Homo sapiens: one gene and its partner. The protein of the gene in region 2 purifies or fractionates together with the protein of the main gene of each other region. This does not show direct contact. Each region holds a gene or a part of one and is shown on either strand. Other genes may lie near its edges. The genes, in order: EOLA1 and NID1.

What was found.
Region 1: the proteins of NID1 (region 2) and EOLA1 purify together in Homo sapiens (co-immunoprecipitation; one large-scale study listed by IntAct). This does not show direct contact.

What each region holds. Positions count from the first base shown.
Region 1 is NC_000023.11:149,539,602-149,543,871, reverse strand, and holds the start of EOLA1 (protein EOLA1), read right to left. Parts: upstream 2,861-4,270; 5' UTR 2,568-2,860; coding exon of another isoform or gene 2,529-2,567; exon of another isoform or gene 2,135-2,528; coding exon of another isoform or gene 2,047-2,134; intron 1,854-2,046; coding exon of another isoform or gene 1,787-1,853; intron 311-1,786; exon of another isoform or gene 1-310. UniProt on the Homo sapiens protein: May play a role in cell protection during the inflammatory response. In epithelial cells, negatively regulates IL6 production and apoptosis through the regulation of MT2A expression.
Region 2 is NC_000001.11:236,062,116-236,066,647, forward strand, and holds the start of NID1 (nidogen-1 precursor), read right to left. Parts: upstream 2,976-4,532; 5' UTR 2,965-2,975; coding exon 2,740-2,964; intron 1-2,739. UniProt on the Homo sapiens protein: Sulfated glycoprotein widely distributed in basement membranes and tightly associated with laminin. Also binds to collagen IV and perlecan. It probably has a role in cell-extracellular matrix interactions.

The DNA of each region.
Region 1 (4,270 bases), on a different chromosome or scaffold from region 2:
CACACTCCTTCCCTCCTTCTGGGACCCCCACGTTGCTCACCGTCCTGCTCTGAATCCCGTGGTGCAGGCCACCCCCCTTCAGACTCAGCCTTAGGTGGACAGGCCCGTACATACTCAGGACCCCAACCATCACCACCAAGTCCACCTCCCTTCCACCTCTGTGAGTGGCATCACCAGCTACAGCGTTCCTGCCCCAGACCTAGCTGCTCTCTGCCCTGCCTTTCTTTCCCACATCTGCGGCCCACATCCCGTGGCACTGTGTCCAAAACCGACATTGAATCTGATCCCTTTCCATAATCTCTATGGCCACAATCCCAATCCAATCCCCTAAAACCCCCTGCCTTCTGAAGAAGTCTCCTGATAGCACCCCCACCCCCCCCCAGCACTTGTCCTCTGCACTCTTGTGACCACACTGCCATCGGAATGATCTTGGTACAGGGACAATGAGATTATGTCACTCCTCTACTGAAACTTTTCAAGGGCTCCCTGCCCCAACTAGCACAGAATCCACACTTCCTCTCAGGGCACTCAAGGTCCCTCCTGATCTGGTTTCCCACCCCAGCCACGTCCTCTCCTCTCCCCTTTATTCACCACCCTGAAGCCACACAGGCCTTCCATCCCCTGAGGGAACATGCCAAGCTTGTTTCTACCTCAGAGCCTTTGTCAGTTGTGATGGGTTGCATTGTGTCCTCTTAAAATGCGTATGTTGAAGTCCTAAACCCCAGCACCTCAAAATGTGGCCTTATATATAAAAACAGAGTCATTACAGAGGCAATCAAGTGAGACTGAAGCCATCAGGGCGGACCCGCATCCAATGTGGCTGGCGTCCTTATGAAAAGGGGGATTTGAGAGACAGTCACGCACACAGGGAGAACACCATGAGAAGATAAACGCAGAGATAAGGGAGATGCTTCTACAAGCTAATGAGTGCCAAAGATTGCCGGCCAGCCGCCTGCAGCTAAGAGAAAGGGACAGACCAGATTGTCTTTCACAGCCCACAGAACAAACGAACCTGGCCACCACTTTGATTTCAGACTTCCATCCTCCAGAACTGCGAGACAATGATTGTCTGTTCTTTAAGCCAGCCCTTTTATGGTCCTTTGTTTCAGCCATCTTGGCAAACTGCTGTTCCCAACACATCTGCACAGGCTAGGGCACGAGTTTGCCATTTGACAGCACATCAAGCCCATTCTTTCCACCTGACAATCTTCATCTACCTTGTTTTTCACTGCCTGGGTGATATCCCATTGTTGGTCGTCTCATAATTTGCCTGACCATTCCTCCACTGATGGAGAGTTACAAGTTGCTTCCCACTTTTGCCACTAGAAATGACATTACCTCTAACACTCGCTGTGTGAAGACATGCTGAAGGAAATGCCTCGGCCGCCTGGCACGCCCATCTAAGATGCTGATATCTGCCAGCAAATGACTTTCCACAAAGACTCACCCGTGTACCCTCCACCAACCCATCCATGGTGCCATTTCCTCACACACTTGTGGCCCCTGAGCATGATTATTCTTCTGATGAGTGACCAAAGATAACCAGGTTCCTTGGTTCTGGATTACTTCTGATGGAGGCTGAATGTCCCCCACAGGGCCTGGCCACTTCCATCGGGATAAATGGCTACAGTGAATGTTTGCCTCTTTTCTGCCGCCCAGTTTCTTAGCCAACCCTTTTCTCGTCATCACCACAAAATCACAACAGACGCCAACTGTGTGTATGTGGAATCCCTAGTAGGAACTGATGTAACTGAAAAGGCAAGAAGGGGGTTGAGTCCCCTCCTACCTGGTGCTGCAGAGAGTACCTGCTTTACGGCCAGAGGAGGAAACACTCTTCCACTTAGCTTCTTTACCTGCACAACAAGGAAGATAAAGAGGAAAGGTCATTAAGTGCAAGACAGCAAAGCTGGTTAATGGCCCTAAGAAGGTCATGTACTTAGCAGGCATTGGAAACCAAGAAGAGCTGGGAGGCCTGGTCTTATCAGTAACACACATGTGCACATCACAGTTTGGTTCTGCTAATCACAGCAGTGGGACCCTCCGCACCTGTCTGGGTCAAGGACCACAGGGTGCACCAGCCCGCAGGGCAGAAAATCATTTCACCATGTTGAGCAGCATTCTTGCAGCCAAGCATGCTCCATTCGAAGGGAGAAAAATGACACTTCCCCTCCCATTGTCACGGGGCGAGTGTTTGGGACTCTAAATCCCATTGTCCTCAGCTTAATTCTGGGTAGGTCACGCTGAGCACGGCGCCACAGGCCACAGAGCTGTGCACCGCCCGGCCTCAGGTCCAGGCGAGCTCACAGCAGAAGGGCCAACGGGAGGCAGGGAAGACCGGACTGAGGTGGGGCCGCTGTGTGTGGAGCAGTACACGGGCTTTCTACTCGCAGACGCACGTCGCGGGTACACGCGCTTAGAAGGAGCGGAGCCGAGACCCTGCCGACAGCAGGGGACAGGAAAAGGCGCCTCGGTCGCGCCCCGCACGAGTTCCCAGCCCCACATCCAGGGAAACCCCAGCCCTCAGGTACCGTCCGCAAGAAGGCTGAGCACACAGGCTCCCGCAGCATGGGCCCTGGCACCTGTCAGCCCCGGCAGGTCTCACGGCCTCCGGAACCATGGACCCTGCGAGTCGTGGGTGTCTAGGGCCGACTCCGGCTTTTCGCCACAGGAATGAACAGTCCTCTGCTTCCCCGAGACCCAGCGAGGCCACCGGAGCCAGGACGATGGGCTCCCAAGCAAGGAGACGTGGGCCGCTGTGAGAAGAGGGAGCGCCTGGCTAGTGTCCAGGCTGCAAGGTCGTTGCCGCTAACTCCGGGAAACCAGTGGCCAGTGACAGGTGTTAGCGGTCTATAACTCTTCCGCTTTCATACAGCTCCCGTCATCCCTTTCACGAAGAACGTACGTGGGCGCGCAATCACGCATGTATGCACACCACGCACGTACGCGGGAGGCACGTACTCAGCCATGCATATAGACAGCAAACATTATGAATCTCGCATTCTCGAAGACACGCACTGACGACATCACGCACGTACGCACGCCCTGGCTGCTAGGAGACGCTATTCTCTTTACCTGGCCCTGATGCGCGCCAGCCAACCAGGCCAAGGCCAGGGGACCTCGAGACCGGCAGCCTCGACGAAGAACCGGAAGGAGGAAAAGGAACGGGAGGGAGGAAGAGTAAGTGGAAGGGTGGGACGAGGACACCAGGCAGGAGTTTTGGGCCCAGAGCTGCTATACCAGCAGGGAGGAGCTGGGAGAAACCGCTGGGGAGGGGGTGGAGGCGGGGCTGAGAGGAGGAGGGCGGAGCTGGGGGAGGGGCCGAGCGGGACTGACAGAAACAATTGGGGGCTGGGTTGAGGGCGGGGCTGAGATAAGAGGCGGGGTGTGGGGCAGGGCCGGGCGGGGCTGAGAGAAACCATTGTGGGCAGGGCCGTGGGAGAGCTGAGCGAGGAGAAGCTGCAGGAAGAGCTCGCGGACTCTTGAGAATCAGCAGGGGGAGGCAGGTGTCCGCTGAGAGAAGGAGGGAGGGGGAGAAAGAAATCACTGGGAGGGGCTGGGGGCGGGGTTTTTAAAGCAGCTGCGTGAGAAGTAGGGCGGGGCTGGGAGAGGCGGGGCTCTGGGGGGGCTGAGAATGCTGGGGAAGGTTTGGGGGCGGGGCTTTGGAGGCAGCCACAGGAGAAGCAGGTCGGGGCTGCGGGCGGGGCTCGGGGTGGGGCGGGGCTGAGAGAAACTGCTGGGGAGGGGGCCGAGGGCGGGGCTTTGGGAGCAGCCGCGGGAGAAGCGGGGCGGGGCAGGGAGGGGAGGGGCGGGGCAGGGAGGGGCGGGGCTGAGAGAAACTGCTGGCTGAGGTCGGGGCTTTGGAAGCAGCCCCGCGAAGAGCAGGGCGGGGCAATGGGAGAACTGAGCGAGGAGCAGCTGCGGGAGGACCCCTCGGACTCCTGAGAACCAGCTTAGGGGAGCGGGGGCTTGGGGAGGTGTAGGGTGGAATCACGAGAAAGCTCTGTGGGAGGGCCTGGTGCACAGCTCAGCTGCAGCGTGGAGCTGAGGGAAAGCCGGGCGTTCCTGGAGGAGGAGCAGGGCGGGGCTGTGGCAAAGAGGTGTGGGAGCAGATGGGGCGGGGCTGCGGGAAATTGCTGGAGAAGGGGGAGCCAAGCTGGAGTAAGGCTGGCGGGTGAGAATGGTGGGGGAGGAGCTAGTGCAGAGCTGGAGGAAAGAGCTGAAAGGTGCTGGGGTGGGCAGAGGGGTAGGAGAAGCGGGACGGGGCTAGAGG
Region 2 (4,532 bases):
ATGTATACCTCTTCTCGAAATGCAGTTTGTCTCAAAGACACCTTTTTATGGCCGATTTGTCTTAATCAGGCTGAAACAAAGTCCTCACTTGCATTTGGTCAGCAAGCCTCTGAAGTCTCTTTTGATCCACACCAGGTCTCCCTCCTTCTTTTTCCCCACCATGCCATTTATTTGTTGAAGAGAATGATAATCTTTTAAAGTTAAATCGTGTCAGCCATCTACTTAGAAATCTCTAATGGCCGGGCATGGTGGCTCATGCCTGTAATCCCAACACTTTGGGAGGCCAAGGCGGGCGGATCACCTGAGGTCAGGAGTTAGAGACCAGCCTGACCAACATGGAGAAACCCCGCCTCTACTAAAAATACAAAATTAGCCAGGCATGGTGGTGCGCGCCTGTAATCCCAGCTACTCGGGAGGCTGAGGCAGGAGAATCTCTTGAACCTGGGAGGCGGAGGTTGTGGTGAGCTAAGATTGAGCCACTGTACTCTAGCCTGGGCAACAGAGCAAGACTCTGTCTCAAAAAAAAAAAAAAAAAAAAAAAGAATAACCAAAAACTGATATTTAGCATTTCCTTTAATTATGAATGCAGGCAACAAAGCAGTCACTAATAGAAGTCACAGATATTTTCATATCACATCATAGTTGCTGCATGTGTCTCAGAATATTGCTCATGATCTTCAAAGTTCAATCGTTACCTGAACTGCCCTTGGATCCACTGCTACACCTTGTTATTTAATGTTGTTAAAAGTAAGCATATAGGCCAGGCGTGGTGGCCCACACCTGTAATCCCAGCACTTTGGGAGGCGGAGGTGGGTGAATCACGAGGTCAGGAGTTCAAGACCAGCCTGGTCAACATGGTGAAATCCCGTCTATACTAAAAATGCAAAAATTAGCCAGGCATGGTGGTGCGTGCCTATAGTCCCACCTACTCAGGAGGCTGAGGCAGGAAAATCGCTTGAACCTGGGAGGTGGAGGTTACAGTGAGCCAAGATCTCGCCACTGCACTCCAGCTTGTGCAACAGAGTGAGACTTCATCTCAAAAAAAAAAAAAAAAAAAAAAGTAAGCATATATTGGGCCAGGCATGGTGGCTCATGCCTGTAATCCCAGCACTTTGGGAAGCTGAGGTGGGCAGATCATCTGAGGTCAGGAGTTCAAGACTAGCCTGGCCAACATGGTGAAACCATGTCTCTACTTAAAATACAAAAATTAGCCAAGTGTGGTGGCAGTCATCTGTAATCCCAGCTACTCAGGAGGCTGAGGCAGGAGAATCATTTGAACCCAGGAGGTGGAGGTTGCAGTGAGCTGAGATTGTGCCACTAAACTCCAGGCTGGGGGATAGAGAGAGACTCTGTCTCAAAAAAAAAAATAAATAAATAAATAAATAAATAAAGTAAGCATATAAGCATATATAGTACATAAGAGCATAAGATGTGTGTTTTTTTAATATTTTGATCTGTATTTCAACATAATTGCCTTCCTTGGTCATCTTGTGGATTTTATTTTATGCATTTAAAACTTTATACTGCCCAGCATGGTGACACTCGCCTGTGGTCCCAGCTACTCAGGAGGCTGAGGCCAGAGGACAGCTTGAGCCAAGGAGTTGGAGGCTGCAGTGACCCAAGATCGCACCGCTGCACCCAGCCTGGGCAACAGAGCAAGACCTCGTCTCTCTAAAAACTAAAATAAAAGCGTTATACTGAAAAGGGATCCACAGGCTTCACCAGTGTGCAAAGGGGCCAGGGCAGTCAACCAACATGGGGGAGGGCTCTTTGTGGATCCAGACTTGAAGGGCTCATTCGTTTTAGGCAAAGCCTACAAGTTCCACGTGAGTGTTGTCTAAGGCGCAGTGTTCCCAGGCCAGACCGGGAGCACAGCCATTTCACGGGCAGGACAGGCTGCAGCCGCTGCGTTTGCAGTTCCAACCCCCTTCCCCCGGCCAACCCCCCACACTTCTGGAATGCACACAAGCCTTATATGAAATCCACATGGTGGGCGGCCGAGGAAGGCAGCGGCACGAAAGGACTTCAACAAGTTGACAGCGACCCCAGGCCCGGCCAGTCACGGGGAGGATCCAGGGAGCTGTAGGTCATCTGGTCCCGCTCCTCGTTTGGGGCCTCCGTGGTGACAATGCCTGGCCACAGGAAATGGGATCACTGGGAGCCCTGTGTTTCCCGCTCTGGACTCTGGACTCTGAAACGAGCCCAACTGGAAAGCAGCATCACTGCCAAGACACATCCGGAGTCCACACACAAATACAGGAGGCTGCCGGCGAAACTCTCCCGCAGCCACAAGAGTCCCGGGGCCCGCGCGCAGACTGCGATCCAGCTCCGGCTCTTGCCCTGCGGAGGCTCCGCGCGAGAACCTGGCTCCACCCGGGACCGGCCAGGTCCTAGCCCCGAAGGGACTGGACAGCCGAGGGACGCGGACTGACCTCCCTGCGGCGATGCAGCCCACAGCCGCCGGGGAGGAAGCTCCGCGGGGTCCATGGGTGCCGGGGTCACGGCCCGGGGCGCGCGGAGCCACCCAGACCCCGCGACCCGCTCTTCGGATAGCAGGGACCGGGTCGGGAAGACCTTCGCGGACCCTGCAGAGGCGGGAGACCCTGCGCCGTGCCCGGTGCCCCGGCGGCCAGCGGGTCCGGGTCCCCGCCTGCTACGCCCAAGTCCGTCCGGCTCCACGGGCGCCCCCGGCCCGCCGCGCCCTGCAGCCCCTCGCCCGCCCTCCCGGGGCTCACTCACGTAGACTGCGTCGATGTCGGATCTGTCGTAGAAGCGGAGCGCCCCACTCAGCTCCAGGGCAGGAGAGACGAAGTCATCCCCGTCCTCCAGCTCCAGGTCCCCCTGTCCGGGGCCGAAGGGAAAGAGCTCCTGGCGGCTCAGGCAGCCCACAGGCCCCGCCAGCAGCAGCGGCAGCAGCAGCGCCCGCGTCCACGCAGCCCGGATCCGGCTGCTCGAGGCCAACATGTTCCCGAACTGCGGTCCCGCAAACCCGGTCCCGCGGCCAGGACAGAGGAAGGCGGGGATGTAACCGGACGCCCCTGGCAGCCCCCTCTCCTCCCGCCTCCCGGCGTTCCCACCCCGGGAAATAGGGGAGGGGAGCGGAGGGGAGAGCGGAGGGCCCCGCCCCGTCCAGCGGGCGCGCCGCGGGGCAGCCCAATGGCCGCGAGGGGGAGGGCGAGGGGCGAAGCCGAACCTCCCGCCTTGGGCGCCGGTGCCTGCGATTCTCGAAACCAGCCCGACTCCCAGCGAACGGCGCCTCCGGGAGGGGGAGCAGAGCGCGGGACCCGCACCGTGGTCCTCTGATTAGGGTTGGGTCGTGGAGAGCCGGCGACGTGGAAACGCTCCGGATTCAGGAACGGCGCCCACCCCATTGCCGCTCGGCCGCGTCCGGGGTCCAATTCGCTTGACCCTGGTAGGAAGACGGGGTGGGAGCTGGGAATCAGCCAAGGGACAGAGCCACCAACACGTTCATGGGCTCATCCACCCATTCATTGCGCGTTTTTTGAGTGCCTGATCCTGTGCTCCCTATTGTGGAGGTTCGCCAGGAAACGGGGTCTCACCCTCCGAGGCAAAGTCACCAGTGTACAACACAAGCCAGTGTCAGATGGGGGCCCCAAGTCATCAAAGACATTAGGGCTGGAAAAACTGGCGGGGAAAGCTGCAGGTGGGACGGCGGGAATCAACCCGGGTGCTCTGGAAGGAATGGGATGTCATCAGGCGGCAGAGAAGGGAGGTGGAGGACCGAGCTGGGTTTATTCAGGGCACCATCCCCCAGCAGAGGATGTGGGGAGGGACCGGTTGAAGTACAGCCTTGAATCACAAATTTAGGAATTTGAATTCGCTCTGTCACTCGGAGAAGAAACTATTGAAAGTTCTTGACAAAGGGAGATAAGCGATTTAAGTGGTATCCTGAATAATCGGTTGATCGTTACTTTGGCACTAGGGTGAAAGTAGAGACAGGTAAGTTATTAGAGGACCAAGTCTAAAACATTGAAATGAAAGAAGGAGCAAATCCTGATTATAAGATTGGCATTGAAGAGGAGAAGAAACGAAGTTAAAATTGAGTTCAAGGGTTTGCACTTGGAGGACTGGAAAACCAGTACTGCCTTTTGACGTCAGGGAAGAGGATCTGGGACAGCTGGAGTTGGATATGTTTGATGTCAGACCTATCAGCGGTCAACAGGACGTCCCCGTTTCCTGTCAGCAGCTAAAAGTAACGACCTTGAACCTAGTTTATAATAATTTTTCAGAAAACAGCAAATTCTGTATAAAATTTAGGGGGCATGAGTTCTGAACCAGCAAAGACAGGAAGAAAAAGCAAAGGAAACATGCCTTCTAAGCAAAACACTTTTGATTTACTCATGAGAACTTGTCTTTTTCTTTTGAATTCATTCGCCATCAGAAATAACATTTATTACCCATCAGAGACAGCATGTGTTCTACAAGTATTCATTCATTTTGCACTCACAGTAACCCTAGGAAACAGACCTTCCCTGTTTTACAGAGAAGGGGCATAGAGGCCCAGAGAGGTT